Regions from separate parts of the Homo sapiens genome. Here region 2 is linked to region 1. Evidence: fine-mapped expression QTL. A gene starts in region 1. The other region holds a variant in brackets. All regions are shown on one strand. Distances are from middle to middle.

Region 1 (16,221 bases):
ATGATAGCATTAAAATATATCTAACTTCAGAATCTCTATTATTAATACATAAGTCTAATCCTTCCCTTTTTAGTGTGGTACATAGGAACTTATCATATCAATTTATTTTGTTCTAATAAACCTGCTTTTCTATTCTTCACGTTTTATTCCTTTACTATCATTTATTGGATGGGTTTCCTTTCATTCCCCTCTTCTTCTTGATTTTTTGGAAACTATTTGTTCTCTATCTAATCTTTAACTGTTCACCCTTAAAATCTTGACAAGAACACTTGCATGAGAAAAGTCTGAAAGTATTCTATATCTTTACTCTCCTTTTGAACAATATATGGAACCTAGGATATTTTAATCTTGATCCCTCTATTTTAGTTTTCATGTTACTTTTGTCTAGTATTTTGTTCCTATTTTGCTTACATCCCATGCAAATTACTCATTATTTAACTCTTATTTTAATTTTGTTTAAATCTTGTTTAGATCAATATATCTTTGTTGTTCACGATGCCTTCTTTCATCTTAAGGTTTTCTTTCATGATGGCCTGTTGGTTTTAAATGAGCACGGGGTATCTAAGAATGTCTAGATATCATATTCACTTTTGAGTGACAGCTTAAATATTTAAATAATTTATTAATTACAGACCTGTTTTAAGCACTTTGATGATACAGGCATCTAGTGAATTTCTATGAAGAGTGTAAAGGAAACCTTAATCTTTGTTTGCAAAGTACAAAGTTTCATATTCATGTATATGAATTGTATCATATAAATACTCAAAAATCCTTAATCATTGTTTATGTAGCTCCTCTTTGACGTTTCCCCCCCTCTTTCTTCCACTCACTCTCTCTCTTACTCCTCCTAGTTCAGCATTAAATCAATCTCTAGACCAGTTTTAAGGAAATGTATTTAGAATGGATTTTAGTAGTCTGCTTTAAGAGTATTCATCCCTGAATCCTAAAGTCAAAAAATAGCTGGATATCTTTTACCATAAAGTCAGCCTCCAATATTCAGTTACTTATAGACTAAAGCAGGAATGAAGCCACACTTTGCCCTTTAGGCATGGCATTGGGTGTTTAAGGTCCTTCAATTCCCCCACGGGCAAATACATACCGTTTATCATGTGCCATCCACTCTACACCACTTTTTGGCATTCCCAGATGTTATAGAACATTGTATGAAGATGATATAATATATCCTGTCCCCTTTGGACACATGATTCATGACACATAACCACGCCAACCTGGAAAAAAATTTCTTAAATACTGAGAAATGAAAGACATAAAACTTTAAAATTACTTAGGTGAAATGATTTCCTTGGAGCAGTCTAGCAAGTCAGCTTGTCGATCTTAGACTAGAAGGCTCTGAAGAGCAGGCATAGGCTGCTTTTTGAGTTGGGAAAGCAAATGAACGTTTAACCCTTCTCTTCTCTTTCATAGGGATCTCTCCATTGGGGTGTTTGTGTGGAAGGCATTTCCTGACTCCTAGCTCAGTCAGCTCCAGGCATTTTAAGCACTGGTGTTTGTGCACTCTACTTATTGACTCTGACTATGTACCAAGACATGATATAGAAAAAGAGTTCTGAACCAGGACTCAAGAAAACTAGAATCTAGCCCAGGCTGTGTGAGCTTAAGCCAGTGATGTAACCTCTCTTTGCATCCATTTCCTTATGTATAAAACGAAAACAGTATCTGTACTACTCACCCTTTAAAATGCTTTCTTACTTAACACCACCCTCCCACCCATGAGTATGAATTTTGCAGTATCATGCTCAAGCTACATGAAAATATAAGTTCTAGATTTTTATAAGAAGAATATACATTTAAGTGATTTTTCAATAGGATGTTTATGTCAATAGTCAAAAAAGAGGGATGCAGGACAAAACGTGCTCTGCTCAGAGAAGGTAAACCATTCATTCATGCATTCATTCATTCACTCAGTAAATAACTATCTAGCACCCATGTGTCAGGCACATGAGTCTCGCCTCTCCTGCAATTTAGGTTCTATTGGGAGGAGGCTGGAAATAAATGAGCAAGTAAACTTTCAAGAAAATATCAGCAAGGAGTGATTACAGAGAATTAAAAAAGAAACGCTATATAGAGTAATGGAATGACTTCCCTGGAGAAGTGACATTTAAAATGAAACCTGAATGCCATGTGATGTAAGAGGGAAGTACAATCCCAGTTTAAAGCAAAGGCAGGAAAGAGCTGGTTATGTTCAAAGGACCAAAGGCCAGTAGGCAAGGTGGGAGAGGTCAGAGAAGCAGGCAGGAATAATCAAGTTGGGCTTTGTGAGTTAGACTAAAATGGTTTAATTTTTTTTTTTTTATTTTAAGAGTGATGAGAAGCCTCTTGAAGACTTTAAGATAAGCAAGTGCTTGGGGAGGTAGAAAAAATATTTATTTTGGAAGTAAGACTGAGAAGGTTATTTGGGGAGAAAGAGGAAGAGACTGTAGGTAGGTGTATTAGTGTGGAGGGCTGCATAACAAAATACCACAGACTGTGTGGCTTAATAACTTATTTTCTGACAATTTTGGAGGTGGGAAGTTCAAGATCAAGGTGTTGGCAGGGTTGGTTTCTTCTTAGGCCTCTCTCCTGGGCTGGTAGATGGCTGTCTTTTCTCTGTCTTCACATTATATTTCCAAATCTCCTCTTCTTAGAAGGAAAGGCACCAGTCATATTAAATTAAGGCCCACCTTAATAACCTCACTTTAACTTAATTACCACTTTAAAGGCCATATCTTCAAATACAGTCATATTCTGAATCATATTCTGAGGTACCAGTGGTTAGACCTTCAACACAAGACTTTTTGAGAAACACAATTCAGCCCCACTACAGTAGAGGGTCTAGCGTGAGCAAAGGTGTAGAAGCAGGATTGGTGTGGTCCCTATTGAAAAACAGTGGAGTCCCCAGACTGGCTGGAGCAGAGTTTACATAAAATGGAGTCACAGGAAATCAGGTTATCAATGGAAGTTGAGGCCAGGCTGGTGAGGGACTTGAATTTTTGTTAAGCAACTTTGGCCTTCTGCAGTAAGTCTTGATGAGTCTTGGAAAGTATCTGAGCAGTGTAGGAGAGCTAGGTATTGATGATCAAACCACTGGTTATGTGAAAGCCTTGCAGGAGAGGATGGAGTCAGGAGACAGCCTGAGGTGTGGAGCTTGAGTCAGGCCCTTAGGGACAGAAAGGAAATAAAAGAGAAAGGAACATCTCTAGGGAAGATCTCCAGTACCAACTGAGACAGTGGGGAAACAGGATTCCAACCTGGGAAACTTCAGAGAATCACTGAAAGACAACGACTTCTGTGTAAAACCTGGGATTATGGCCAGAATGAGTCAGGGTAGTGCATTTGGTCTCTGTACAAACCCTGCACCTACAGCTGTGGTGGAGGCTGGACACATTGCCTCACTTGGCTGGAAAAACATGGCTTCAGAGTCAGACAGGACCCAGACAATTCAAATTCCAGCTTCTTCATTTTTAGCAGTGCACCTTAATTTCTTTGAGCAAGTTGCTGAATCTCTTTGAAACTTAATCTCCCTAGATGTCCAATGGAAATGATAAATCACCTTTCTAGACTTTTGGAGGGTTGAAGTAATATGTGCAGTGTCTGGCTCATCGTAGGTGCTCAATAAGTGGTAGGTTCCTTCTCATCTCCCTTAGTGGAACAAAGCCCTGGAATGACACAGAGCAGATAGATTTAGGTACTTGAGACACATCTGAATTGCTCTGGCAGGGCACGTGGGCTGGTGCTTCCTGTGGCAGGATTGGCAAAGGTGCTGGTGGGGCTGGAGCTTCTGTGGTGTCATGTGTGTCCATATCTGTCCACGTTTTACCTGCATAGAAAACACCAAATACTGGATCAAGTCAGGCAAAAGGCTATCCACAACCTGTGTGGCCCTGGGTGAGTGTCCATTGTAACTATCAATGGCCCTATTTACTGTATCCCTACCATCTGGCATGGAAAGAATTCAGCAGTTTACAGTTCATTTTACTCTGAAAACAACCTGCTTCATTAGTCTAAGTTTATAGATGAGGAAACTGAGGTTCAGAGTAAGTAGCTTTCTCGAGTCAGACATCATTAGAAAACAGGAAAGCTAGGTTTGCAACTTAGGTCTGTCTGATTCTAGAAATCATTTTCTTTCCACTAAGCTCTACTTATTCCTTGCCTTGGCTTCTACAAGTCTCAACATCTGAGCTACAAAATAGGACTAATTACACATGACTTGCCTCGAAATATAATATTTATCTTTTCCCAGCCTTTGTTGTAGGGAACAAATGAAAATAAATATGTTCTATTTCCTCTAGATGTATTATAAATGACACCAAAACTTAGTGGTATAAACAACCATTTGATTACATTCATGGATTCTATGGGTCAGGAATTTGGGCAGGGCATAGTGGGAAGAATTATTTGGAACTTTCAGGATAACTCAAATGTTGGACTCAGCTGGGGCTGTAAACTACTTATATACAGCCTTTCTGCATGGCCTGTGATCCTTAAAACATGGCGGCCTTAGCGTAGTTAGAATTCTTACATGGAGGCTCCAGCCTCCATATGTGAGCATCCTAGCAAGCAAGGCAAATGCTGCATCACCATTATTATCTAGTCTGGGAAGTCACACAGCATCACTGCTGGTGCAGTCTACTGATAGAAACAATGCTCAGATTCAAGGCTGTTTGGATTCAAGGAGAAGAGATATAGATTCCATCTCTCAATGGAGGAAGAGCCACAGAATTTTATGGCTGCTTAAAAAAACAAACAAGCAAAACACCACAGGGCATAAAATTCCAAGGAAAGTATACATAAGTGTACTGGAATAATGCCTTGCTATTATTAATGATATCTTTGTTTTCAGCCAGGGCACTCCACCTTGCCAAGCATAAAACACTCATGTCCAAACAATGCTGAACTGGATTTGGTTGTGAACAAGCTTTTTTTTTTTTTTTTAACTTTTTCCTGAAGAGAAATGCCTAAACTTTTTTTAAAAGAAGTTCCTTTGGCAGCAACAGCGTAAAAACTTCCAAGAACAATGTTAAAAAATCTGCAAACTGTCCAGTTGTTCAAGCGTCATGAAGCCCCAGTTTTACCTGTCAAGATGGGAAAAAAGAATGACAAATGACTCTAGTTCTGTAAAGATCAGCTTTTCAACCTTTCTTTTAAAGTTAAGTACTTTTAGTTGAATTAAATCTGGGTCATGGAGAAAGCCTCAGTTTAATTTTCTTTTTAAAAATAAGTTTCCATAAGTATATATAATTTATTTATTTTCTTTGATTACCCAGCTTAAATTATTTAGGGCCTGTGTTTTGGTGCTTAATTGGGCAACGCATTAATGATCCTGGTGAAATGAGAGGAAATGGCTATGTTTATATGGGGCCTATGCCAGTTAGATTCTATTTTCTGGAATAGGGGAGTTATTTATTTATTAAGAACTATTGACCCAGATAAATTACCTGAGATTCATTATTACACTGCCAGGTGGTGCCCCAGACTTGAGGCTTAGAGTGACCAAGCTTTACATCATCCTGTTCACCATTTTTTTTTTTTGAGATGGAGTCTTGCTCTGTCACCCAGGCTGCAGTGCAGTGGCATGATCTCGGCTCACAGCAATCTCTGCCTCCCAGGTTCAAGCGAGTCTCCTGCCTCAGCTTCCCGAGTAGCTGGGACTACAGGCACGCACCACCACACCTGACTAATTTTTGTATTTTTAGTAGAGATGGGGTTTCACCATGTTGGCCAGGCTGGTCTTGAACTCCTGACCTCGTGATCCGCCCGCCTCGGCCTCCCAAAGTGCTGGGATTACAGGCATGAGCCACCGCGCCCGGCCCTGTTCACCATTTTTTGAATAAAATCTTTAGAGGAATATGCCACAATACTAAGTCCAGAATAAGTAATGGATATTCAGAGATTTGTATCTCTACTTTGGTGACAGTTGGCTATTTAAATTGGTCCTTAATCAGAGGTAGTGATAGATAAAGGTTTTTTAAAAATCAAATCCCCAAAGCTATCTTTTCTGATTTGAAACTATTTTTTGTTGCTTACTTATCCCGCATGCCTCTCCCAAAGTCATGATGTGTGGGAGAAAGATGAAATTTGGAATTAAGCAGACATGAATTGATATTCTGCACAATTATGCAAATATGGATAAGTTGCTCAAACTTTCTGAGCCAGTAATCTGATTATGATTAAATAGGGAAAATAGCACAATTGTCTTAGTCAATTTTCTGTTGCTTATAACAGAATACCTGAAACTAGGTAATTTATAAAGAAAACAAATTTATTTCTTAAAATTATGGAGGCTGAGAGGCCTGAGGTTGAGAGTCCAAATCTGGTGAGGTCCTTCTTGTTCATGTGGATTCTGTAGAGGTGGCAAAGGGCATCACATCATGTAATAGCTCAGGTCTCTCTACTTCTTGTTATAAAACTACCAGTCCCATTCCCATGATAACCCATTGATCTATTGACACATTAATATATTAATCTATGCACAGATTAATCTATTCATGAGAGCAGAGCCATCATGAACCAGCCCCCTGCCAAATGTCTCACCTCTCAATACTGCCACATTGAGGATTAAGCTTCAACATGAGTTTTGGAGGGGACACATATTCAAACCACAGCACACTTGTTGCAAAGATTAAAGAAGGTGTAGGTGTGGAATGTATATCCTCCATTGTAAAGCCTGGCATGGAAAGAATGAGGACTCATTAACTGTTAGGTTGCTTTACCCCATCTTTTGCATCTGCAATGGCCCAGCAGAAGCAGACAGCACAGTAGTGCTCCATACAAATGATGTGGACTTAAAAGCTCTTATGTCTGAGTATTTCTAAGGCTGAACTTACTTACTTTTATCTCCTCTAAGGCAGGTCATTGTTGCCTGTTCCCCAAATGAATCAAATCAAATGTGTGACTGGCACACTTGTTTTCAGAGATATAGGAAGTAGGATAAGGGGAAGACATTTTTACATTTATTGAACATTGACTATGTGCAACATACTGTTTAACATATTTTTAAAATTTACTTCTTGTAATGATCTTATGAAGTAGGCATAATGCTGCTCAATCAATTGCTCCAGAACATAATGAATTAATGCAAAAACCACTTATTGTATCTCATAAGTCAGCTGGATAGTTCTGATGTGAGCCAGGCTTGGCTGATCTTGGTTGAGCTTACCTGGGCTTGCTCATGTGTCTGTGGTTAGCCAGCCTGTAGGCCAGTTGGTTCTGACCAGCCTAGTGTGACCTTGGCTGTCTGAAACAGCTCAGTTCTACTCCATGCAGTCTCCTACCCTTCTGCAGGTTAGCTTAGGCTTGTTCTCATGTCAGCAGCAGGGATTCAAGGCAGGAAGAAGCAACATGCATGCCACTGTCCCACTGACCAAAGCAAATCATATGGCCTAGCTCAGAGTTGGGGTGGGAGGGCACATCCAAAGGAAACAGATTCAGAGAAGCATGGACAAATGGCCATTAGTGCACTTGATCTACCACAATAGGCATTGTTATTACCCTCATTGGTAGAGGAGGAGATGGAGGCTAGCAATTTTGTGCCTGTTGGTAACTGGCCCACCCCCTAGTGTTTTTCTTTGCTGTGTTCTTTCCTGGCTATCTCTCCATGGAGATGCTTCCTAATAAGCTACATTTCCCCCTGTTTCTCATTATTTGGTCTGAATTTGAAACTTCACATAAAATTATTAGGACCAATCAGTGATCTTAACAAAGCCCAGTATAATGACATCAAAGAACAGTGCAGGTAAGTCAGTAAGATAGGTCTACTTATTAGAGAAAATGAAGGGAGGAGGGCAGATATGTAGTTGGGTGGAGCATAAATGGAAGAAAATGAGACAAATTTACATTTCTCTTCTATTTTCTGGCTTTTTTATTTTCCCTGGGTCAGCTACCACCTTTCCATGCCATCTTTTCTAGATTCTGAAACCAACATCTGACAAAGGCAAGGTCCTGGTGTCGGCCTGGGACATTTACTAGATTTTTGACCCTGAACAAGGAAGTTACCTAACTTCCCTGAGCCTCTATTTCATCATGTGTGAAATGAGAATAATAGCGCACATGTTGATTTGTGGGCTAAAGGAGACCTGAAGGTAAAGAGCCCCACATGGGTCTGAGCCCCATGCAGCCACCATGATTCACTGCTGTCCCCAAGCACATCCTGGTGCCTGAAATCCTGAAGAGTTGGCTTTCACCACTGCAGAGGCTCTGAGTGAGCTGCCAGGGCAGCAGAGGGAGGCTGAGCTGCAGGAGTGCTGTTAATGGATTTTATGGCTTTGTTGAGTACCTCAAACTACAGTTATTAATTAGAGGATGCTGTTTAGGCACTCTTGCAATATATACATTTTGTTAATTGATTTGTATAGGCTCATAGCTAGCAACATAAAGAATGTGCAGGACCATAACACTTACAAGGGATTGTAATTGCCTTTGCTGCCCTCTCTGGCTCCCCAAGCAGGGAACAAAAGCTTTGAGGATAGGACCCACTCTCTCCTCTGTCTTTGGATCTCCAACGACTAATCCAGTGCTCACTGTCAGGGTGATACAGCCTGTCTAGATGCTCAGCAAACGTCTTGAATCAATGACTAAATAAATAATATTGTTTGTTTCTGTATTTCCATATCTACTTTATTTCCAAACTATTCCTCATAAACCCTGCATTGTGTGTGATGTTGGCATTTCATTTAGGTAAATATGGTCAAGGATTTATTCTGAGTCCTTACTGTTTTTTTTTTTTTTTTTTTTGAGTACCTTTGTAATTTTTTCACGGCCTAGAGATGGTTGAGGATGCAAAGATATGCACTGGCTCCTGCACTCAGGGAACTGACAATACTCAACGGCACGAGATTTTACAATGCATGACGTCAAGTAGCCTGTTCTTAGAGATGCGGAGTGACAACATAAAGGTGGCAACTTCTTGCATGGCACCATACCGCAGGGAATTTTAAGTTTGACACCCCGCCCCCGCCACTGCAGCCTCAGCAGGCCCAGCACCCCAAGTTTTCTGATCTAGCTGTTCTATCAGCCTCTAAGAGCCGCGGCTGCCCCTGCTTCTCGGAGATGACGCGGAGCCCTGCCATTGCCATCCAGGTCCAAGGCTATCTACTCTGCCCGACAACCCCTAGCACCACTAGGCGCTGCTCTAGTGTGCGCCTGGCGCCCTCCCCAGACCAGTCGACGCAGAACGCCCAGAGACCCAGCCAAGGGCAAGACCCTTAGCGACGCCCGTCAGTCCTCTCCGCCCAGATATCAGTTCAAAGGGCATGGCAGGTCAGGGTCCCTCGCGCCACCCCAGATGACCCTCAGGCCTCGGGTGGCCACTTTCTGGGGGAGCCCTCCATCCCTTGCGGCAGCTTTTCCGAGAGTCGGAGTGGAGGCGCGGGGCTGGAGGGCTCTCCGGAGCCGCCCACCAGGGTCCTCTGGGGGCCCGGTCCCGACTGGGCAGGGGGACCTGGACAGGGCCCCGGAGCGTGGAGACGGCTGAGGAAAGTTGGGGGTCGGGGCCTTGGGGCGGGGAGCGCGGAACCCGGCGCCGATGCCCGCGTTCATGAATATGCACGAGCCACCTCCCTCCCTCCGTGACGTCACGGGCCGTCCCGGGGTGAGCGCCTGAGCCGCTCCGGGTCCGCGCCAGTGAGCGCGGCTGCTGCCGGCGAGCTAGCGGCGCAGCGGCGGGAACCCGAGGCCGAGCGCCGCGGCGGCAGCGCTAGAAGCGCACCCATCGGGCACGGCGAGGCGGCCCACGGTGCGGCAGGCACCGGGAGGCGAGAGCCGGCGCGGACAGTAGGCGGCGGCTGCAGCTCGTTGGCGGCTGCTGCGAGGATGCTGCCTGGGCGGCTGTGCTGGGTGCCGCTCCTGCTGGCGCTGGGCGTGGGGAGCGGCAGCGGCGGTGGCGGGGACAGCCGGCAGCGCCGCCTCCTCGCGGCTAAAGGTGGGTGCTGGGGAAGTTTGCTCTTCTCCCAGGAGGGAGGCAGGGCAGGCTTGAGGGTGAAAGCGGCAAGGACCTAGGCTCAAGCTGGATTTGCCCACCCTCCCTTGCCGCAGCTTCTTTGGCCTCTGTGCGCCCTGGATTCCCGAAGTCAGTTCCCTGCGCAGCGGACCAGAGAGGTCCACCCGCGGACGTCAACTCAACCCCTGGGCGGGGTCCGGGGGCTGAGCAGAAGGCGAGGTCTGGGGAGTACGGACAACTTTGAGGGCTGTCTGTGCCGGGGTGGGAGCGCAGTGGGTGAGTTTCGAGCTCTGGCCCAGGGACGGCTAGAGCAGGGCGCTGGCGCGCCGTGGGGACAAGCAGGTGTCTGCTCCTGCCTGGGGGAAGGATCAGCGGCGGTGCTTTCAAGGAGGGAGCCGAGCTGTGACTTGTCTCCCAGCTCGGGGATGGAGTGGAAACTTGTAGGCTCCAGGGAAGGCCCCGCTGACACTCCTCAAGCTCCCCCAGGGCGTCTCTGACTCCCCGGGGAACGTGTACCCTCCGGGTAGGCGGCGGGGTCCGGAAGAAGCGCGGGATGTGAGGCTCCCCGCTGCCTTTCCTACTCCGCTCTGACTACCGAGGACCGAGGAGCCTAACCTGGCACCACTCCCCTGCCCACCCTGTTCCTTTGAAGAGCTTGACCTCCCCGCGCCTCCCGCCCGGAAGGAAGCTAGATCCAAGCGAACGCCTGGCTCTGTCAGGCGAGCCTGGAAGCCGGCGAACCCCGGACTTTGACAGCTGCCTGGGAGCGTCGGGAGCTCTGGGGTGGGGGGCCGGGTCTGAAACAGGAGGTCACGTGCTTGCAGGGGGTGGGGAGGCGAGGGAAGAGCAGAGCTGGTGGGGAACAGTGGTGGGCTCAGGGGAGGCTGTGGCAGATCCTAGCTGGGGCGCACAGCTTAGTGATAACTTGTTGATTCTCTGCGCTGTTCATAAGTAGGGCTTGCGTTTGGTTTGTGGACTGTGGCCAAATCCGCCAGGTGACAATGAGGGGTACTTGGTCCCCAAATCCTGCCTGGCAATCATCAGAGGGCGGAGGGGTTTGCGCCTGTCAGAAAATAGATTCCCTGTTAGAGACAGCCTGATTCGGACGCTTGCTTTGAGCTACACTTGACCACTAGCTTAGGGGAGGAAATGCCTATCAGGCTGCATTACTCTTGGAGGTTGGGGAGAGCTGGAGGCAGGCAGTTCGCCTTGTCTGGGCTTTAGAAACTGGCCCTCCAATAACTTAGGAGTGATATATTTGAGAAGAACATGGGAGATTATGTTTATCTGTAATTTTTAAATTTTTTGGTGTCATCGTTTTGAAAATATTTTATAAGCAGGCATTCTGTTTCTTTTCAGCATTTTTTTTCTTGGTGTATCTTTGACAGGCAGTTTCTATTTTTAGAAATGAGAAATTTCATGAGAGAAAAACTCGTTATGAAAATATCTCAGAGTGCGGTAAAGAAGTGGCTGATATGAAGGGATCAAGCTGAGAGACTGTTGTTTTGGTGAAGACAAGAATAAAAAACAATGAACTTCCAAACATCTCCCCCCTGCTTTCCCAATATAGACACTTTGTTAAACAGGCAAATTACTTTTTTGGGGGGTGGGGGGGAGGAGATTTCCCATCACTTTGTAGCACAGTAATTGATATAAGCAGATGTCTGCAAACGGGAGTTTGAAGGAGGGTGAGAAGCACACAGCAAGTGCAGAACAGGGAAGAAATCATTTGGGAAGAGGATCTGGTGTGAGTAGTAATAATGCACGGCTGAGTTCTCAGGTCAGAATGGGAAGCTTCATAGAGGTAAGCGAGAAAGAGAAGGAGAGAGATAAAAAAGGAAAATAAAAACCCCAGGCTTTCAATGATTCACTTTATGTGGATAATTATGTGCATTTTAACCAACATCCGACTTAGAACATATTCATTTTTTGGTTAAAACTAGGCATTTGTCAGGTCGGGCATGGTGGCTCATGCCTGTAATCCCAGCACTTTGGGAGGCCGAGGCGGGCGGATCACCTGAGGTTAGGGGTTCGAGACCAGCCTGACCAACATGGAGAAACCCCGTCTCTACTAAAAAAAAAAAAAAAAAAAATTAGATGGGTGTGGTGACACGCACCTGTAATCCCAGCTACTCGGGAGGCTGAGGCAGGAGAATCACTTGAACCCGGGAGGCAGAGGTTTCAATGAGCCGAGATCGCGCTATTACACTCCAGCCTGGGCAACAAGAATGAAACTCCGTCTCAAAAACAAACAAACAAACAAACAAACTAGACATTTGTTTTTCCAGGGTAAAAAGTTTATTGGCCCTGCAGATTGAGAGTTAACTGTCCGAATTCCCCTTGTTCTCGCTTCTTTCCCCTTCCAACCACTGGGGGGCTGCAAAGAGCTCTGTTTGCTGCTGATTTTTTTTTCAAGATAAATGTGTAATATTTGATTACAACAGAGACATTTATTATGACACTTTAGTTAGTATTTACAGGACTGACTTTCCTTATAACAATGCACTTGCATTTTATGTTTCCAAATCATATGATCTCTGAAGAATGTTTGAAATGATAAAGCTGTATGTTTTGTGTATAATGCACCCTGCCTCTGACTTTGCCATTTTTAAGGTTCATACCATTGTTATTCCCATCACAAAAAAAAAAAAAAAAAAATCAGGAAGGCGTGTGAAGATTGAACAAAAAACCAGATACTTCTTTCGTACAATTCTGTATTCATGTGTAGAAAAACACTGGGAGTCTGGAGTCAAGCTTTCTGACAGAGTTGAATGCACCCTCCAAACAACTGTCTGGAAGCATGTGCTCCCAGCTTCAGTCTTGTGTAAGATGTTGTGTCTGTGGTGCACAGCTTGTTCTGCCTTTGTGCTTCTTGCTTCTTGCTTCTTGCTTTAGGGACTCGAGCAGTTAATCCCGGACAACTACCTGGGGTTTTCACAGAATCACTGTACTTTCAGTGTAGACATATTTCCAATTTCAGAAATCACACAGTGGCCAGGCAATTATAACTCCTTCCCTTCACCCTTACATATTTTGGCTATTCAAAAAAGATAAATACTTCTTGGATTCCATGAAGAGACCAGATCACATGCTCATGTTCTATGAGTAAAGCTGGTAAGGTGTTGTGGACCCAAAGAGTTTCTGGAGGCAGAGAAAGACATGTCTTATCCAAGGGAAGGAAGACAATGCAATCTAGACAACACCTCAAAGTTTGTGCTAAATTTGGCAAAATGTCAGTGGTCCCAAGACCTCAAGGACTTGGTACACAGTCCTTCTTAAGTTCCCAACATCTAGGCATAGAGGTCATTTGGAACAATACTCAAGTATAGACCATCAATTGTTGTAGTGCCCGCCTTGTGTGCTAAGAGCCTTGCTCAGTGCTCTGGTTCTGAGCCAGTAGCAGAGGACCACCCTCCACCCCTCCCACCCCTACCTTTCTTTTTTTTTTAATTTTTATTATTATTATACTTTAAGTTTTAGGGTTGAGGAGCTTCTGTTTTAGTTGGAGAGACAAGATTTTTATGTGAAAATTTTAAGAGAGTGGCAGCGGAGAGAATTTGTCCAAAGTATAGTATTGACTGTGATAGAGACACAGGCAAAGGAGATGGGAGTGCAGAGACAAAGTTTACAAAAGCAGCATGTGGTAATAGGTAAGGAGGAGGATGGAGCAGAATTATAACAACAGTATGGTGTAATTGTAGTAATTTCAGTGTATGGAGTCCCTCTTTAGTATGTCACAGGCACTGTTGCTAATCCCATTACATGGGCAATCTCTAACTCTTACAACACATGCAGAGCCAGTGTTAGCCCATTTCACAGATGAAGAAACAAATTCTATGAGAGGGTAAATGAACTTGCCAAGACCTCCAGCTAGAGGGTGTGGCACTGGGATGAGAATATAAAGGTCACTATACCCAGTGCCCCCTATTTGTCAGATAGTCTTCCCAGTGGTTTTGAAAGCAGGTCTAGGGACCACAAGGAAGCTGAGCTGTTTGCATCTTTGAGTTACCCAGGAGCCCTTGTGGTCCTGCCCACAGAAGAGCACAGTATGAGTGTCTAAGGCTGTTTAAAAGGGCATGCAGGTGAGGTGAGGGAAACGGACCTTGCTCTCACCATGGAAACCAATGTTCTCGCTTAGAGCAGTCACCTCATTCTCTCTCCCACAGATTCAAAAACCATCCTTGAATATTCCAGATTGCACACTGCAGAACTTCCTGCAGGGGCAAAGGTAGTGTGGAATTTTTATGGTGGATTGTTCTAAGTCATCTTTGGGTAAGTAGCAGGTGTCTTCTAGTGGTATAACAGAGTCATTTTTCCAACTGAAGCACAAATGCCAAAAAGCCCTCAGCAATGCATCAGAAAGTGTACTCTGACCTGCTGCCATCCTGAAACGCCTGTGGTTCTTGGACCGGAATGTGCCCTTTACCTCTCTTGGATTCTCTGGGCATCAAGCTAGTAGGTCACCTTCCTCAGCCCAATTTTCACTGTTACTCAAGATTTGGCCTTCCATAAGGAACCTTCCCAGGCTGGTTACTTCTGAGTGACTTGCCTCTCTTTCCTGCATGCCTGTGTTTCCTTGTCTGACTCTAGTCCTCAGGGCTCAAAGACCAGTGCTAGAGGCTCATTCTGACTCTCCTGGTATCTCCAGAGCCTTGCCTCAAGATATGAGATGAGCAGTATGCAGTGATTTGCTTGGTGAACACACCTGTTTGTAATCCCTAGTGCTGTCATTTCTTGACATAGACAATTTATGTGTTTTTCCTTCTCCTCTATAAAGTAAAATTTGGGCATATGGCCAGAAAAACTTGAGTTCCAAACCTGGCCCTACTGCTTCCTAGTTAGATGATCTTGGACAAGTTAGTTAACCCATCTGAGACTCAGTTTCCTCATCTCTAAAATGGGGATACAGAGATCTACCTTGTAAAATAGTTGTCAGGGCACTTAGCCCAGTTTGGGGCATGTAAAATGCACTAAATATACAATGACTAATTATTGATCACTTGAACAGTTAGTTTAGTGTCTGAGATTTGGTGAATTTTTTTTTTTCTGATCTCTTAGAAATCCAATAGCTTTGTTCATATCTTTTCTCAGCTCAAACTGTTATCCGTTCCTCTGTTTCTCAGTCTCTCTCTGCCTCTCTCTCCTTGTGTGGATATGCACCTGTGTGTAAATATCATATATAAATGTAAATGCACATGCATACACACGCATTTGGCTTGACTTGTTTGTAAAAAGACATGCTTTTTTTCACTAGTCTATGGATGTCTTTGAAGCCAGAGCTCCATCTCATTCATCTCAAAGGCCCTGGCACTTAGTGCAGGGCCAGCTCAGAGTAAAGGTCAGCAATATTTGCTATCTAAGTAAATAAACAAGCCTGTCTCCATGTGCTAGTGCCAGAGGTGTGGGAGGTTCTGGTCTCTGGAGGGAGAGCTTATGTGGTGTGATCTGGGTTGTAAGGAAAGATCTCCTGCCCAGTTCATACTTTCCTCCAAGCCCTGCTACCTGAGAAAACAGAAAGGCATACTTTTTTGTTTAAGGTATTGACAAGTTTTGTGATAATACATGTTTATATGGAATGGGGTAACTGAAGCTATGATATTCAAATAACAGCTTGAAATCGATGATTGTTTTATTAGCTGTTATCTAACCCATGACTAATTGGACCCTGTGGAAATGGTTCCCTGGGAAAGACAGGTTTTGAGGGTAGACCATGGGGAGGCCTGAGCTGGGGAAGAGCACTGAGCTGAAGATCCTGGCACTGTGTAGGACAGAGGATCATGCTCTGAGATTTGGGAAAGAAACAAGCAGTAGGCCAGAGGGAGTATTGGTCAGAGGAGAATGGTTAGAATGAGAGTTAGCCCTTCCAGACATGCACTAGGTCCTGTTCTCTAGCCTTTTCAGCCAATTACTATTTCTCAGCCTCCTGTTATTCTCTGTGAGGGGAACAAAAAGATAAAAGCAAGTTCCAATTATCAAAGAGTTCACACTCTGTCTAGGGCAAACACTGCACATCACACATCACACAAACTATTGCAGAACTTGGTGACTTATGGGAAAATCATAGATTGTGCATCACAGACCCCCCGAAGCCTTGCAGGAAAGGAAGAAGTTGGCAACAATAGAGGTCAGGAAAGACTTATGGAGAAAGTAAAAGGGATGTTGATGGGTGGGTAGGCATTGGGTAAGCATATGTCAGGGGCAGGGGTTTGCACTGGACAGGTAAATACAAGGTGGTAAGAGTGATTGGCACACAGGCACGAGTGAAGAGGGAGCTCAGCCAGGTCAAA
Region 2 (16,221 bases), 41 kb before region 1:
TGGCACAAGATAAGGATGCCTTCTCTCACCATTCCTATTCAACATATTATTGGAAGTTCTGGCCAGAGCAACAAGGCAAAAGAAAGAAATAAAGCATATTTAAATAGGAAGAGAGGAAGTCAAATTATCTCTGTTTGCAGATAACATAATTGAATATTTAGAAAACCCCATCATCTCAGCCCCAAATCTCCTTAAGCTGATAAGCAACTTCAGCAAAGTCTCAGGATACAAAATCAATGTGCAAAAATCACAAGGATTCCTATACACCAATAATAGACAAGCAGAGAGCCAAATCATGAGTGAACTCCCATTCACAATCACTACAAAGAGAATAAAATACCTAGGAATACAACTAACAAGGGATGTGAAGGACCTCTTCAAGGAGAACTACAAACCACTGCTCAAGGAAATAAGAGAGGACACAAACAAATGGAAAAACATTCCACGCTCATGTATAGGAAGAATCAATATCATGAAAATGGCCATACTGCCCAAAGTAATTTATAGATTCAATGCTATTCCCATCAAGCTACCATTGACTTTCTTCACAGAACTAGAAAAAAACTACTTTAAATTTCATATGGAACCAAAAAAGAGACCGTATAGCCAAGACAATCCTAAGCAAAAAGAACAAAGCTGGAGGCATCATGCTACCCGACTTCAAACTATACAGTAAGTATACATTTTAAAGAATTTTGTTGCAGCATTCTATTTAGTAGCAAAATGAAAACAACAACCTGGAAACAAAGGAATGTGTATCAATGTGGAATGAATAAATGGTGATACATCCATATTATGGCTGTAGAGTTCAATTATAGTTAAGTTGAAGAGGAAGTGAGTTAACATGGGTGAATTGGGTAGGTACGCAATCCTTGATAGGGCTGGATTGAGGGTGCAGAGTGAATTTGTAGAATACAAGCATTGAACTGGCCCACCAAGATTGCTCCTCTCTCTGGCATGATCAGATAACAATGATGGTAGATTGTTGTCAGTAGTTGATTGGTAGATAATGGTGGTATTATTGTTCTCAATTATTTGCTCCCCTTACTTGTTAGGGGATTATATTTTCCACCCCATTAACATAAAGTGTGGCCACATGATTTGCTTTGATGCAATGTCAGTGGGGGTGATGTGTGCCAGCTTCAAATAAAGGTGTTAAGTGCCTTTACATAGTTCTGCTGTCTTTTCAATCTAGCACAACTATGATATGTCCTTGATATGGGCTGCTCCTTCACCCTGAGTTCAAGAATAATGAAGACACAGGAGTAGAGGCAAATCAAACCCATAGCCAAGGTGTATGCTCAGAGAGAAATTACTCTTTGTCTTTAGCCAATAAGATTTTTTTTAAGCAGCATGATCTAGCAAAAGCTGACTAATAAAGCTAGAGATTCAGGAAGCTGCAGCCTCAATTTCTGGACCCAAGATGCACTATGGTAGTCAGGATTTAAAGCAGCAAATAAGTGCCTTGCCCTTGACTCTTGGTATCCATGAAGCTAGGCACCAGTCACTGGGACTCCTAGGACAGCTCCCATGTAGCAGCCTCCATGACTGCAGCTGAGATGCCAGAAACAGTCAAGGCAAAATTCCTCCACACTTTGACTTCTGAATCTCTCAGGTACCTGTTTGGTAGAAACTAGGTCAAATGAGCAATCACAGGTCTAGGAGAGGCTGGAGATGTTGTCCTTAACACTCAGTAAGACATACTCCAACAAGATTAGATTGCAGGTGAGTGAGCTCGGCTTCAATATCTGCCACTCATATCACGAACTATCATTTAAGCTTTAGAAAGAATGAATTAACCTTCATCATTTAGGTTGTGGTCTCCAAATGGCATTTTATACTAGAAGACTGTCAAAGACTAGCAGACATGCCAAAAGAATATAGCAGTCAATCATAGGAGTTTCTGTTGGCTACAGTTGGGAAAACTTGAGTATTAAAATAATGATTGCAAAAAAAAATAAAATTTATCAAATATATACAAATAAGTTTTAGTGATACCCAAACAATGTTTGAAATAATGGATTTAGGCCCTTTAGTCCCAGTATCATTGAGTGAAAAGCTGTGGGAAAACTACAATAGATGGATAGGTTGACAGCACCTGAACCACCAATCCGTCTCCATATTACTGAAGGCGAAACAACCAGATGCAATGCAACAGGAAGCCAAAAGAGTTTAATCAAAATATCTAAATTGGGGATTAGATATTGGGCATAGTAGCTTACACTTGTAATCCCAGCATTTTGGGAGGCCAAGTTGGAAAGACTGATTGAAGCCAAGAGTTTGAGACCAGCCAGAACATCAAAGCTAGACTCCATCTCTACAAAATAAAAATGAAACAAACAAACAAACAAACAAAAAACAACTGGTGAGGGGGCCAGTGGTGTGCCGTTGTAGTGTCAGCTACTAGAGAGCCTGAGGTAGGCGGATCACTTATGCCCAGGTGTTCAAGGCTGTAGTGCGCTATGAATGCACCACAGCAATCCAGCTTGGGAGACAGAGCAACACCCCTTCTCAAAATAAATAAATAGATAGATGAGAGATAGATAGATGGATAGAATCAAGCCTCTAGCTCTAACTGCTAGTTTACAGGAAATACAGGAAATAGGTTACAAGTTAATTGACACCTTGAGGGTGTGGTTGGCTTACTTCAGACTGTAGTAAATTTTACTAAGCAAATGGACAGGTCTCTTCATGTGCGCGCACACACACACACACACACACACACACACACACACACACACAGTGCCTGTTTAAAAGGGGAGAAACGAAAACTATTATGACTTAAGACAAGTATCAATGAAATGTAACTTGAGGTCTTTAGAACCTGATTAAACACACCAGGTATAAAAAGAGACTTTTTCAGACAATAAGAAAATGCTAAACACACAGTATTACATGATATTAAGCAATTGTTCATTCTGTAAAGGATGATAGGTATTGTGATTATTTTTAAGCTCTTCATCTGTTAAAATACATAGTGAAATATTATAGTAAAATATTTATGGGTAAAATGCTATCATGTCTGAAATTCTCTATAAAATACTCCAGCCCCTACTAGAAAGAAGGAAGGAAGGAAGGAAGGAAGGAAGGAAGGAAGGAAATGAAGGTGTATTTGTTTTTCATTGTTGCTGTTGCAAATTATTAGAAACTGAGAAGCCTAAAAAAACACACATTTATTATCTTGCAGTTGTATGATTTGGAAGTCTGATGCTGGTCTCACTGGGCTAAAGTTAAAAGTGTTGGTGGGACTGTGTTCTTTCCTGAGGACATAGGAGATAATCCATGTCCTTACCTTTTCCAGCTTCCAGAGGCCATGGCTCATGGCCCTCTTTCTCCATTTTCAAAACCAGCAAGATGTGATTTCTTTAATCATCTTTCCATAGTTGCATGTTCTCTAATTACAGTGAGAAAAGATACTCTTATTTTAAGGATTCACAAAATTAGGTTGAGCCCACATGGACAATAAAGGATAATTTCTTCATCTCATGTTATTTAAATTTAAGCATATCTGCAAAGTCCCTTTGCTATGTAAGGTAACATATTCACAGAGAATTAGGATGTGGACATCTTTGAGGGGGCAATATTCTGCTTACCAGAGGAAGGACTAATGAAACAAGATTGGGAAAATATAAATATTGATCATTGTTGAAGCTGAGTGACGGATATGTGGGAGTTCATCATATGTTTCTCACTTCTTTTGTTTATGTATGAAACTTCCATAATGAAAACTCACAAAATATCATTGGGTGTTTTGTTAGTCCACTTTGCATTACTATAAAGGAATACCTGAGCCCAGATAATTTATAAAGAAAAGAGGTTTATTTTTCACAGTTCTGCAGGCTGGACAGGAAGTATGGCGCTGACATCTTCTCCTGGTAAGGCCCCAGGAAGCCTTAAATCATGGCAGATGGCAAAGGTGGAGCAGCCATGTCACATAGCGAGAGCAGGAGCCAGAGAGAGAAAGGATGAGATGCTAGGCTCCTTTAAACAACTAGCTCTCTTGTAAGCTAACAGAATGAGAACTCACTCATTACTATGGGGAGGGCAACAAGCCATTCATGAGGGATCCACACCCATGACCCAACACCTCACACTAGGCCCCACCTCCAACTTTGGGGATCACATTTCAACACAAGATTTGGAAGGGATGCACATCCTAAACCTTATCAAGTGCATTGCAGCTGACGATTTACACGATGAATTATAAAGTGGTAAAAGCAAACTTCAAAGAAGTACAAGTAATATAATCCCAGTTTAATAACACAGCAATGACTTAAATTCTTTATATTTGTTTGCTCCCCTCCCCTCCCCTCCCCCCTCCTCTCCTCTCTTCTCCTCTCCTCTCCCCTTCCTTCCTTCCCTCCCTTGCTTTCTTTTCTCTCTCTCTCCCTCCCTCCCTCCCTTCCTTCCTTCTTCCTTCCTTCCTTCCTTCCTTCCTTCCTTCCTTCCTTCCTTCCTTCCTTCCTTCCCTTCCTTCTTCATCATTTATCTACATATGATTAAATGAACCTTGAGAAAGGCAGGACAGAATATTTAGGTAAGCTGTTAATATATTGGCTATATAAGATGTGTCTATTGGAATAGGGGAGAGGTACACAAAAATCCAAACAGAGTTCAATAATTACTTGATTTTAAAAGTGAGCATATAAGCCAATTTATGTAAAGTTTATATATGAAAATCTATATTTGTATAGAGTCATGCACTGTATACATGTTGACTGAAATAACATTTCAGTCAACAATGAAGGTACATATATAATTGTAGTTCCATAAGATTATAATAAAACTAAAAAGTTTTTATCGCCTAGTGCAACACATTACTCACATATTTGTGGTGATGCTGATGTAAACAAATCTACTTTGCTGCCAGACATATAAAATTATAACATATATAATTATGAGTAGTACATAGTACTTAATGATAATAGATGACTATGTTACTGGTTTATGTACTTACTATACTATAATTTTTCATTATTTTAGAGTACATTTGTACATTTCTTCTACATATATGCACACACACATATAAACTGTGTGTATTTATGTATCCATCTACCTTTCTACTCTCTCTGTATATACATATTGACTGTAGAACAGCCTCAGGCAAGTTCTTCAGGGGGAATTCCAGAAGAAGGCTTTGTTACAGATGATGACAGCTTCATGTATATTATTACCCCTGAAGACCTTCTAGTGGAACAAGGTGTGTAGGTGGAACAAGATGTGGAGGTGGAAGACAGCACTATGGCTAATGTGTATGTTTGTGTCTTAGGTTTTAATAACATAGTCTAAAAAGTTAAAAAAAATAAGTAAAAATAAAAAGTATATAAAATACAAATATAAAACAATTTGTATAGCTGTGTACTGTGTTTGTCTTTTAAGCTACATGTTAATATAAAAGAGTTAAAAAGTTTATAAAGTGAAAATGTTACAGTAAGCTAAGATTAACTTATTGAAGAAAAAATATTTTTATGTAAATTTAGTATAGCCTAGTGCACTGTGTTTGTAAAGTGTACAGTAGTGTACAATACGAGGCCTTCACGTTCACTCACCACTCACTCACTCACTCACCCATAGCGACTTCCCATCCTGCAAGTTCCATTCATGATATGGGCCCTATTCAGGTGTACCATTTTTAAACTTTTACACCATATTTTTACTGTATCTTTTCCATGTTTAGATATGTACAGATACAGAAATACTTACCATTATGTTACAATTGCCGATAATATTCAGTACAGTAACATGCTGTACAGTTCTGTAGCCTAGGAGCAATAGGCTATGCCACATAGCTTAAGTGTGTAGTAGGTTATACCATATAGGGCTGTGTAAGTGCACTCTAATGTTCACACAATGACAAAATTGCCTAATGACACATTTGTTAGAATGCATTCCCATTGTTAAGCAATATGTGACTATATTTGTGTCATTTACATAGAGATACATGAATGGATACATGAATGGATGAAATCACCAGAATCTAGTTATCTCAGGGTAGAAAGTATTTGGGGTGATTTTTATTTTCCCCTTGCCATTTTCTATATTGCTTGAATTTTTTCAATAAACATACATTCTAAAAAATCATAACACAGACAATAAAGTGATTTTAATTGTGGAAAATAAAACATGAATGAATATTATGAATATTCCTTGTGTCATAGACTTCACCTCCACCCCCTGCTTCCTTCCTCTCTCACACCTCCTTAACAGAGGTAGAACTAAAATTCTACATACCATTGACACTGAAGATGATTCTGCATGGTTTAGAGGGAGAAAGTAGGGTCTAATATGCCAAACTTTACACGTTGTTAGAAGATATACAATAAAAATATATATTAAAAGTTTTGAGCAACCATTAAAAGAACAGAAATTGTAACTATCAAACCAACAAAAGGGGGAAAATGTGTATGTGTGTGTGTGTGTGTGTGCACAAAATAAAACCAGTGGAAAGAGGAAGTTTAGGAAAGAGAAAAAAATGATAAGTAAAACATGACAAACAAAGAATAAAAAAGTATATATTGGTAATCACATGTGTAAACATATTCAACTAACCATATTAAAGTACAGGGACTACCATGTTGACTAGAAATCAAATTGTTTTAAAATCCATTTCTTCACTGCTTATAAGAGTCACAACTAAAATTAATGTAGAAAGGTTAAAAGCATGAGCAGGCTCTTTGGTGCAATGGATAGCACATTGGACTTGTAGCCTAAATTGAAAAAGTAAATGATGGAAATAGCATATAAGACAAATGCTAGCCACAAGAAAGTTGTTCCATGAGATAAAATAGAATTTAAGGTGAAAAGCACTAAGACCTTGCATAAGTGGTATAATTCATTGAGATATATTAATTGTGACCTTATGCTACTAGTAACATGACCTAGAAATAGGATACAAGGTAAAAATGATAATCCCTAGTCCCAGTGGGAGGGTTTAATATAGAACCATCACAAACTGATGAATCAGGAAGACAAAAATTAGTCAAGGGCTTTAGGACCCATGAGTTCCACAAAAAATGGCACAGAAACAGAGCTGGGCAGGTAGAAGGAAGGAGGAGAAAAGTTTTGGGGGATGCCCATTTCCAGTCATCCTCAGGCACACGTCAGTGAAGATATAAACCTCAAATTTATTCTTTGCTCTGAGCTCATTCTCTTGGGTTTCAGAATCTGTTACCCTGCAGCCTAGAGAGATCAGCCAAGTCTTTAAGGCCAAATCAAAGCCAATTCAGACATTGGAATACAAATTGAGAAGAATTATTTGCTACTCACATACATTTTTTCAAGTATATGTAAGTTTTGGGCCAAGGAGAGGTGAAGGAATGTTTTATTCTGAAAATAAAGGATTGAAAAGAAACAACATTAATGTGAATGATGTTTACAGTGTGCTGTTAACAATCCTTGTGAGTGAAACTCAAATGCTAGAGTGATCACTCACTCTGAATTGCTCGCTTTGCAAAATGGTTTGCCACAGGGCACCCTTGAGTAATGAGTTCCTTGGTGCATTTTGTTTGGGGCACTTGTTTCCAAGGTGCAGCTGACAGCAGTTCTGGGGCCAGGAGTCCTTCACAGGAAGGAACGCCTAGCTTGGTACACTTTGCTTCTTATAGTTAGACTCCTGCAGCTGGGAATGGAACCACTGCCTTGGTGCAGTTGTACACCAGACTGCACATTCCAGGTGGCATTAGGGAGCTGGGGCCACTGGTGCTCCCAGTTCCCAGGGCCCACTCCTTAATTAAATGATGATGGGGTCATAAACCCACTGCTGGAGCATTCTTAGTAATGAAACTAGAAAGGATTATGGCTACGATGCCAGCCTTGTCCAGCAGTGCCAGACCAAGGGGATGGGGGTCTGAGAGTCTATTTAGAGTGGGAAAAACAAAACACTTCTGGAAAAGTCGTGAGCTCAAGAGAAATTCATCACAATGGGGAAAGCTGCACAGCTGGACACATTTCAATAACGTATAACTTGAGTGAATAACAGCTCACTGCAGAAAAATAAGAAAACATAGGCAAGCAAGAAGACAGAAAGTACCCCATTTGTCAGGTATGCCTGATAACCTGGCACTGTTTTTCTCCTGGAGGTGTTTTCCAATTTGAAATACCAAACAGAGGCTGAAAAGATAAATAGAGCTTTAATTATCTCATGAGGATGGATGTGGTAGACAAAAATATGAAGTGGAGCCCAACATCAGAGAGAGGCCTGGTAAACACCAAGCTTTCAACTAGGACTTTTAAAAGTTTGCAGCTTAGTAATACAGAAGCCTACTTGTGAATTATCTCAAAACCTGTCTGAATTTAAGCAAACTGTGCCCTTCCTAAATGCCTGATACAAGAAGACTAAATTCTTTTTGGAGAAATATAGCATTATCCAGTACCTTAAATGATTTCTTCAATTGTTCATATGCAATATCTGGCCTGCAACAACAATTGACAAGCATAGAAAAAAGAAAAAAATAAAATGACTCATGATCAAGATTTTAAAAAATTGGCAATATAAAAGGTCTGTAGGATATCCAGTTATTGGAGGCTTTAAACTATGATTCAGATTTTAGAAAATAAAAAAGAAGATAATTATAGTTGAGAACTGAAAACTACATATAAACTATATATAAAATGCATCAAATGGAAAAATTAATTACTCAATGACCTTTTAGATGCAGAACCTAGAATATCAATGCTTAACTCAAAGGAATGAATCCATGAGGACAGCATTTCAGGTGGTGCTGGAGGGAGAACAGCTCAGTCTGCTTTTACAAGACAGGGTGGGTTTTGTGGCCAGGTCAGAGTTCTTCCAGGACTCCTAATACCACCATTTAGTTGGAGTGATAATGAATAGTAGATGTGCTTTTAGCAGAAGGGCAATAAATTGTTTGATGAAAGATTTACTCTCATCCCCCCCCAAGGAATCTCTTCTCTTAATGGTCCTGTCAATAGTGTCTTTCAGGGAAGACATACAGTAAGTGGCACTTTTATGGAAGCTGATTGCCGAGCTCAGCCCTAAGAGCTAGATTCTGAGAGCTAGCTGGGATTAACAAGAGATGCATTATTACAATCCAGGGGAAAATCTCCTATTTGAGTTGTGTAAATGCGTTATATTTCTATAGCACTTTACCTCTTATTTATTTTTTGATAATCTAGTACATTTCTTGGAGAAAATGGGATAAAATTGCAGCAAGATAAATTTATGCCTATAATAAGGATGAATTTCTTATTGTGATGGTCATTAGGTTTAGGAAAGGGATTTTGCAAGGCAGTTGTGAAATCTCTGTCTCCTGAGGCTCATGAGAACAGACTCAGACACATTGGCTTATCTGGGG[GTGGGGAAAC/G]TGGCCAGTTTGGTTTTCATCTTTTCTGTAGCAAAAACAAAAAGGCTAGAGAACATTAACCCTAAAATCTTAGGGCCTACCCATTCTTCCTGCTGCTCCCAAGCCTGCTCAGTCCCATCAGGTTCTGGGATTTCCTCTCCCTGACCCGCACACCTACTTTCTATTCAAGGGCTACATTTTATCTTCATTGTTGTCCCCATTTGCCCCATGCTCCCTTCCCCACTTCTGTTTGGGAGCCACGGGTGATGTCATAGGGGACAGAAATGGGTTTGGGCTCAGACATCCAAACATTCATCCACATACACTGAAGGAGGGCTTGCCATGGGCTGGGCATTGTGTAGAGCACACTGGTTAGAGCAATGTTTTGCCTTCATTCTACCGTGGGAGACAAAAATAAACCAGCAAATAAAAATATGAATAACGTGCTGTCAGGTAGGGATAAGTGGTAGAAACAAAGCAGAGTAAGGCATTAAAAAATGACTGGGGCAGAAGATAGTGCATTAGAGGTAAGGCGGTCAGAAAGGCCTTTCTTAAGAGATAATATTGGAGCAGAGACCTGAGTGAAATAGTGCAGAAACCATGTGAAAATGGGGAGAAATACTAGTGCCAAGGCCCTGAGACTGGAATGTTCTCAGAGTGTTTAAGAAACAGAAAGGAGGTCAATATGGCTGAGCTGAAGGAGCCAGATGGAGCATGATCAGAGATGAGACTGGAAAGCTAGGCAGGGGCCAGGCCATATGGGGGCTTGTTGGACATGCAAGCATTTTGGATTTAATTCTCAGTGATGTGGGACTGAGACAGCTTTGAAAGATTTTGAGGTGGGAAGTGACATAATTTGATTTCTATTTCTAAGGGGCTGCTCTGGTTGCTGTGTGGAATAGATTGGTTGGGTATGGTGGGAGACAGGGGTCAGGGATGAGGCTATGGCAACAGGCCAGGTGAGAAGCGATATTGGCTTGGTCCAGGGCAGCAGCAGTCAAGTGATGACTCATTTTGATACTAAGTCTGAATTCTGGCACTGCCTCTTACAAACTGTGACCTTGGGCAAGTTGTTTAGTTTCTCTGAACTTCAATTTCTTCTTTTTAAAAAATTGAAGATGAATATATAATACTTTATGGCCATTTGGTGCACTGTGGGCCCTCACAAGGGTCTTCACAGCAAAACTTCTGTCTTCTAGATCATTGTCCTCCTTCCCCTGAAAGGGAGTTCCTACAACCAATTTTTAAGCCTTGGGTGCAGATTGTTGAGTTAGCCTCTTCAGTTTGTGGCTCATAATCATCGTTGGTCCATGCCTCTTTTGTTTTATTTACTTCCTTATTCTCCATTCTCTATTCCCATTTCCTTCTAGCTTCTGCCCTCAGTCAGTCATTCTAAAGTGTTTAATGTGTATCCTTCTATAAATGACATACTGTTGTTCTGTATACTTGTATTTTAAATTTACCTAAATGGTATTGTATCATATATATTTCATTATTTTTCTTATTTTACTGAGCTCTGTGTTTTCCAGATCCATCCTCATTGCCATGTACATAGTTGATTGGTTACTGCTAACTGTTATCTAGTACATACATTATGGTGAGCATCACAATTTAACTAGCTACTCTTCCAACCTCCTGCAACCTGAAAGTTCAACATCTGCATACTCGTGCCCCTTGAACCTGTGTGAGAATTACTTGGGGCATATGCCCCAGGAGCAGAGTAGCTGGGTCATAGGTATGTGTATACCTAACTTGATTAAGTACCACCAGACTGTTTTTCAGAATGGCTGTACCACATTCATCAGCAGCACAAGACAATTTCCATGCCCCTACTTTCCCTCCAGCATTTGGCATTATCCAGTTTTCCAATTTTACAAGACTAATAAGTTCTAAGCTCAGAACTTATTAGTTCTCTTTGTTATTTAATTAGCATTTCTCTGATTAAAAATGAGTTTGAGCATCTCTTCACATGTTTATTAGCCCTTTGAGTTTTTTTCTATAAAATGCTAAGTCATATCCTTTGAACATTTTAAATTCAGGGTTGCTATCTATTTTCCATTTGACTTGCAGAAGTTTCTTGTATATTATAAATAATACATTTTTTGTTGATATAAAATGCCACAAATATATTCTTCCATTCCGTCCATTCTGTCACCTATTAACACCTATTAACTCTTTCCATATATCTTACATTGAACTGAAAAATACAAAAATACTTTTGATATGATTAAATCCACCTGTTTTCTGCTATGTGTTTTGTGTTTTTGAAACTGCTTAGGAAGTGCTTTCCTACCTCTATGTCACAGTGATATTATGCTTTCTATATTTTATCCTAATCATTATAGACATTTATCTTACACATTTAGATCTTGTATCCATTTGGAATAAAATTATATCAAGTATCATTGGATACCTGATATTAAATATTAGGATATTGGAATAAAATGATATTAGGATCCTGCTTTATTTTTCTTGTGTTCCAGTTTTGCCAGCCCTGTTATTAAACAATATTTTCTTTGATTCACAGTGTCATTTTATCCTATAAGAAGCATGGTAATGGGTCTGTATTAGCCCTCTATTCTGTTCTTTTGGTTTGTATTTTGTTTGTAGAACAATATTAGACTGTTTTTATTACTGTGGCTTTATAGTATATTTTATTATCTGATAAAGCCTTCTTTATTCTTCTTAAGGTTGACTTATTTAACTATACATTTTTATTCTTCCATAGAAATTATTGAGGCACAACTTGCATACATCAAAGGTTATATATAATTTTCAGTGGGCGCAGTGGCTCATGCCTGTAATCCCAACACTTAGGAAGCCGAGGTGGGAGGATTGCTTGAACTCAAGAGTTTGAGGCCAACCTAGGCAACCTAGCAAGACTCTGTCTTGAAAAAAATGATATATATAATTTTCAAATTCTTAAGCTGAATACTTATGATCTTTCCATGTTTGTTATGTATAAGAGTATATCTCAATTTATATGGAAGAATAAAATTTTTTACTAAATTTTTAATTTTAAATGTTTGTGGGTTCATAGTAGGTGTATATATTTATGAGGTATATGAGATATTTTGATACAGGCATGTAATGTGTAGTAATCACAAGCACAGGTAACCAAAGCAAAAGTGGACAAATAGGATCACAACAACTTAAAAAAGCTTTTGCACAGCAAAGGAAACAATCAATAAAAAGAATAAAAATTTTTAATTAGCTGAGACAGTCTTAGGATGTAGAATATTTTTATCACCCCAGAAAATTTCCATGTGAACTTCTGTCAATCCCCCCCACACTATGATCATTTTGTTTACTACTACCATTGATTAGTTTTTCCTGAATAGAACCTCATGTAGATGGAATTAGACAGCCCATATTCTTTTAGATCTAGGTTTTATTTTTTAAGTTTCACCACTGTTATTGCAAGTATTTACATTTCATTCCTTTTTAGTGCTGAGTAGGTTTGTTTTTCCATTTACCTGTTGACAGACACTTGTAACCGCTCTGAATTTTTTGATGTTATATAAATGAACATTATAAACATTATTGTTGAACTCTTTTTGTGGTCACATGTTTCATTTGTCTTTGGTAAATACTTAGAATAAATATTGCTAGGTCTTAGGGTATAGACTTACATTTAACTTTATAAAACAATGCCAAACTAATTTTCAGAATCACTGTAGGCTAGGCATGGTAGCTCACACCTGTAATCCCAGCACTTTGGGAGGCCAAGGTGGTTGGAGCACCTGAGGTCGGGAGTTTGAGACAGCCTGGCCAGCACAGTGAGACACTGTCTCTATTAAAAATACAAAAATTAGCCGGGTGTGGTGGTGGGCACCTGTAATCCCAGGTACTTGGGAGGCTGAGGCAAGAGAATCACTTAAACTCAGAAGGCAGAGGTTGCAGTGAGTCAAGATCGTGCCATTGCACTCCAGCCTGGGTGACAGAGTGAGACTCTGTCTCAAAAAGCAAACAAGCAAAAAAAAAAAATCACTGTAGCAGTTTACATTTCACCAGCAATGTCTGAGAGTTGCAGTTGCTCCACATTCTCATCGACATTTGGTATTGTCAGTCTTTTAGATAAAAGCTATTCTAGTGGGTATGAAATGTATCTCGTTTTAATTTGCATTTCCCTGGTGACTAATGATGGTGAAAACTTTACCTGTGCTTATTGCGTAATCTTTCATGAAGTGACTCTTCAGTCTCTTCCCTATTTTTTCTTGGATTACTTATCTTTTCATTATTGACTTATAGACGTTCTCAGCACTCCCTCCTCACTTCAATGTGTTGAACACGAGTCTTTTGTCAAATAAATATATTGTGAATTTTTTTCCAATATATCTATTGGAAATTTAAAATTTTCCAATTTTCCATATTTTCCAATATGGCTTGCCTTTTCATTTTCTAAATGGTACCATTTTATCAGCAGAAAGTTTTAATTTTGTGGGAGCTTAATTTATCATTTTTATTTTATGGTTAGTTCTTTTTGAGTTATCATTAAGAAATCTTTACCTACCCATGGTCACAAAGACATTCTTGTATGTTTTATTTAAGAAAGTTTATGGTTCTAATATTTAAAGTTAGGTCTATAATCTCTCTGAAATTATTATTTTTTACATATGTTACTGAGCTAGATTTTAATTTTTTTTCCTCCACAGAGATATCAGTTGTTTAGCACATTCTGTTAAAAAGACTTTCCTTTCCTCACTGAATTACTTTGGTTCTTTGGTCAAAAATCTCTATATGTGTAGGCATATTTTGGGATTTTCTATTCTGTTTCATTGACCTACAGGTTTTTTTTAATGCTGATAACACATGGTCTTGATTACTGTAACTTTACAGTAGGTTTTGAAATCAGGTAGTGTAAGTCCTCCAACTTTGTTCTTATTTTTTCAGATTATTTTGAATATTCTAGATTCTTTACATTTCCATATACATTTTAGAATTAGACTTACCTTTTCAATTTATTTTTTAAAATACTTCTAAAATTTCAACTGGGATTGTACTAAATCTTTTGGTTAATTTAGAGAAAGTAGACAATTTTATCAGCTTTGAATAGTATAACCCACGAATATGATGCTATCTTTCCATTTTGTTCTTTAATTTCTCCCAGAAATATTTTATAATTTTCAGGGTAGAAGTCTTGCTTATCTTTTGTTACATTCATCTTAGGTATTTTTTTTTACTTTTAAAATTTCATTTTCTGTTTATTCATACTAATATATAAATATATAATAAATTTTTAAATGTTGATCTCATATCCTTTAACCTTAGTAAAGTCAATTACCAAATTTAGGTGATTCCATAGTATTTTCTACATATAAAATTATGGTATTTGTGAATAAAGACTGTTTTTATTCTTCCTTTTCAATTTTTGCACTTTTTTTTTTCTTGTCTTATTGCACTGAGTTAAGAGTTCTCGGACAATGTTGTAGAGAAGTGGTGAGAGAAGAAATCTTTGGAAACAGTTGTTCCCAATCTTAAGGTATTCAATGTTTTACTTTTTACATTCAAATGTGAACTTTTTACTGCATGCTTTTCACTGTTGCCTTATATTAGATCAAGGAAGTTCCCTTCTGTGGTAGGCAATATAATGGCTCCCGAAGACGTCCATGTCCTAATTTCAGAAGCCTAAAAATATGTTATGTTACTTGCCAAAGTGGAATTAAGATTACAGATGGAATTAAATTTGCTAATTGGCCTTAAAATAATAGATAATTCTAGATTACCTGGATAGGCCCAAAGTAATCACAAAGGTCCTTAAAAGTGGAAGAGGGAAGCAAAAGAAGAGAGTCAGATGGAGATGGAACTACTAGAAAAATGGCCAGAGAGATCCATTGTTGGTGGTGTTGAAGGTGGAGAAAGAGGGCTACGTGCCAAGAATGTAGATATCCTGTAAAAACTGGAAAATGCAAGAGAGCAAATTCTCCTGTTGTGCCTCTGGAAAGGCACACAGCCCTGCCAATGTCTTGATTTGAGTCCAGTGAAAACTGTTTAAGATTTCAAATTCTCAAAACTGTAAGATCATGTTTGTGTTGTTTAAGCCACTATATCTATGGTTGTTTGTTACAGCAGCAATAGGAAACTAATACACTTTCAAATTTGACTTTTCTTAGAGGTTGTTTTTTAAATAAATGAGTGCTTTGCTGTTTCCGCTCTTGACCATGCATCACACTGTCTTGATTGTCCTGTGTCTCATAATTTTTAAACTGTATTTCAGACACTGTGTTAAAATCACAGTAGAGACTGAGGTAAATAATTTTGTCCTCCAGGAAAAGGCATGATTGATTCTTCTTTTCTCAGGCTGCTTAGTGTAGGGGATGAGTTAATCTAAAGTCTAGTTCAACTGGGCCCAGAGATTTCTTGAACTTTTAATTTGTTTCAATTCCCACTGGCTTCAAATATTTTGAGGGTAGAATCAAGACTTCCCCTTCAGTAGGGTTGGGGATCCAGGGATCCAGGGCTCTGAGTATCTCTTTATACTTTACAGCTTAACTACCAGCTTTCTGAGCCATGTTAGCTCTTTTGCTGTGAGGAGTTCACTCTGATTTCTGTCCCCACCCTGTCTTTCTACACCCCAGGAAATCTCTCTCTGCCTTGTTCCCCTGCTCCAGTTTTCAGAGGGCCACCTCAATGTACCTGTTGAGGTTCGTGATGTCTTTGAACTTTTCAAGAGGTTTTCAGCTCTCCAGCCTGTCCTCAACTGATGGCAGCTACTTTTTATGAAGGCCAGCATGCCCCAGAGGAAATCTTTTTAGTTCTCCTGTTTCATGTAAATTATAAAGTACATTTATCAAGTCCCTTTAACACTCCAGCTGGAAAATTAATTGGACTTACATTGAATTTATAAACTAATTTGGGGAGAATTCACATTCTTGTGATATTAACTGGCCCATTCATGACTTTGGAATGGGTCTCCATT

What was found.
Region 2: its variant is fine-mapped to the expression of CLSTN2 in lung (TOPMed, PIP above 0.99).

What each region holds. Positions count from the first base shown.
Region 1 is chr3:139,925,568-139,941,788 of GRCh38, forward strand. It overlaps CLSTN2 (calsyntenin 2), which reads left to right and starts at 9,618. Exons shown (of 17, transcript NM_022131.3): 1 at 9,618-9,916. The coding sequence starts at 9,808. RefSeq lists silencers at 9,616-9,665, 9,706-9,765.
Region 2 is chr3:139,884,509-139,900,729 of GRCh38, forward strand. No RefSeq gene overlaps it. Among named protein-coding and RNA genes, the nearest start is that of CLSTN2, 43 kb to the right of the region's middle. The variant GTGGGGAAAC/G (reference allele first, on the strand shown) is at 9,315.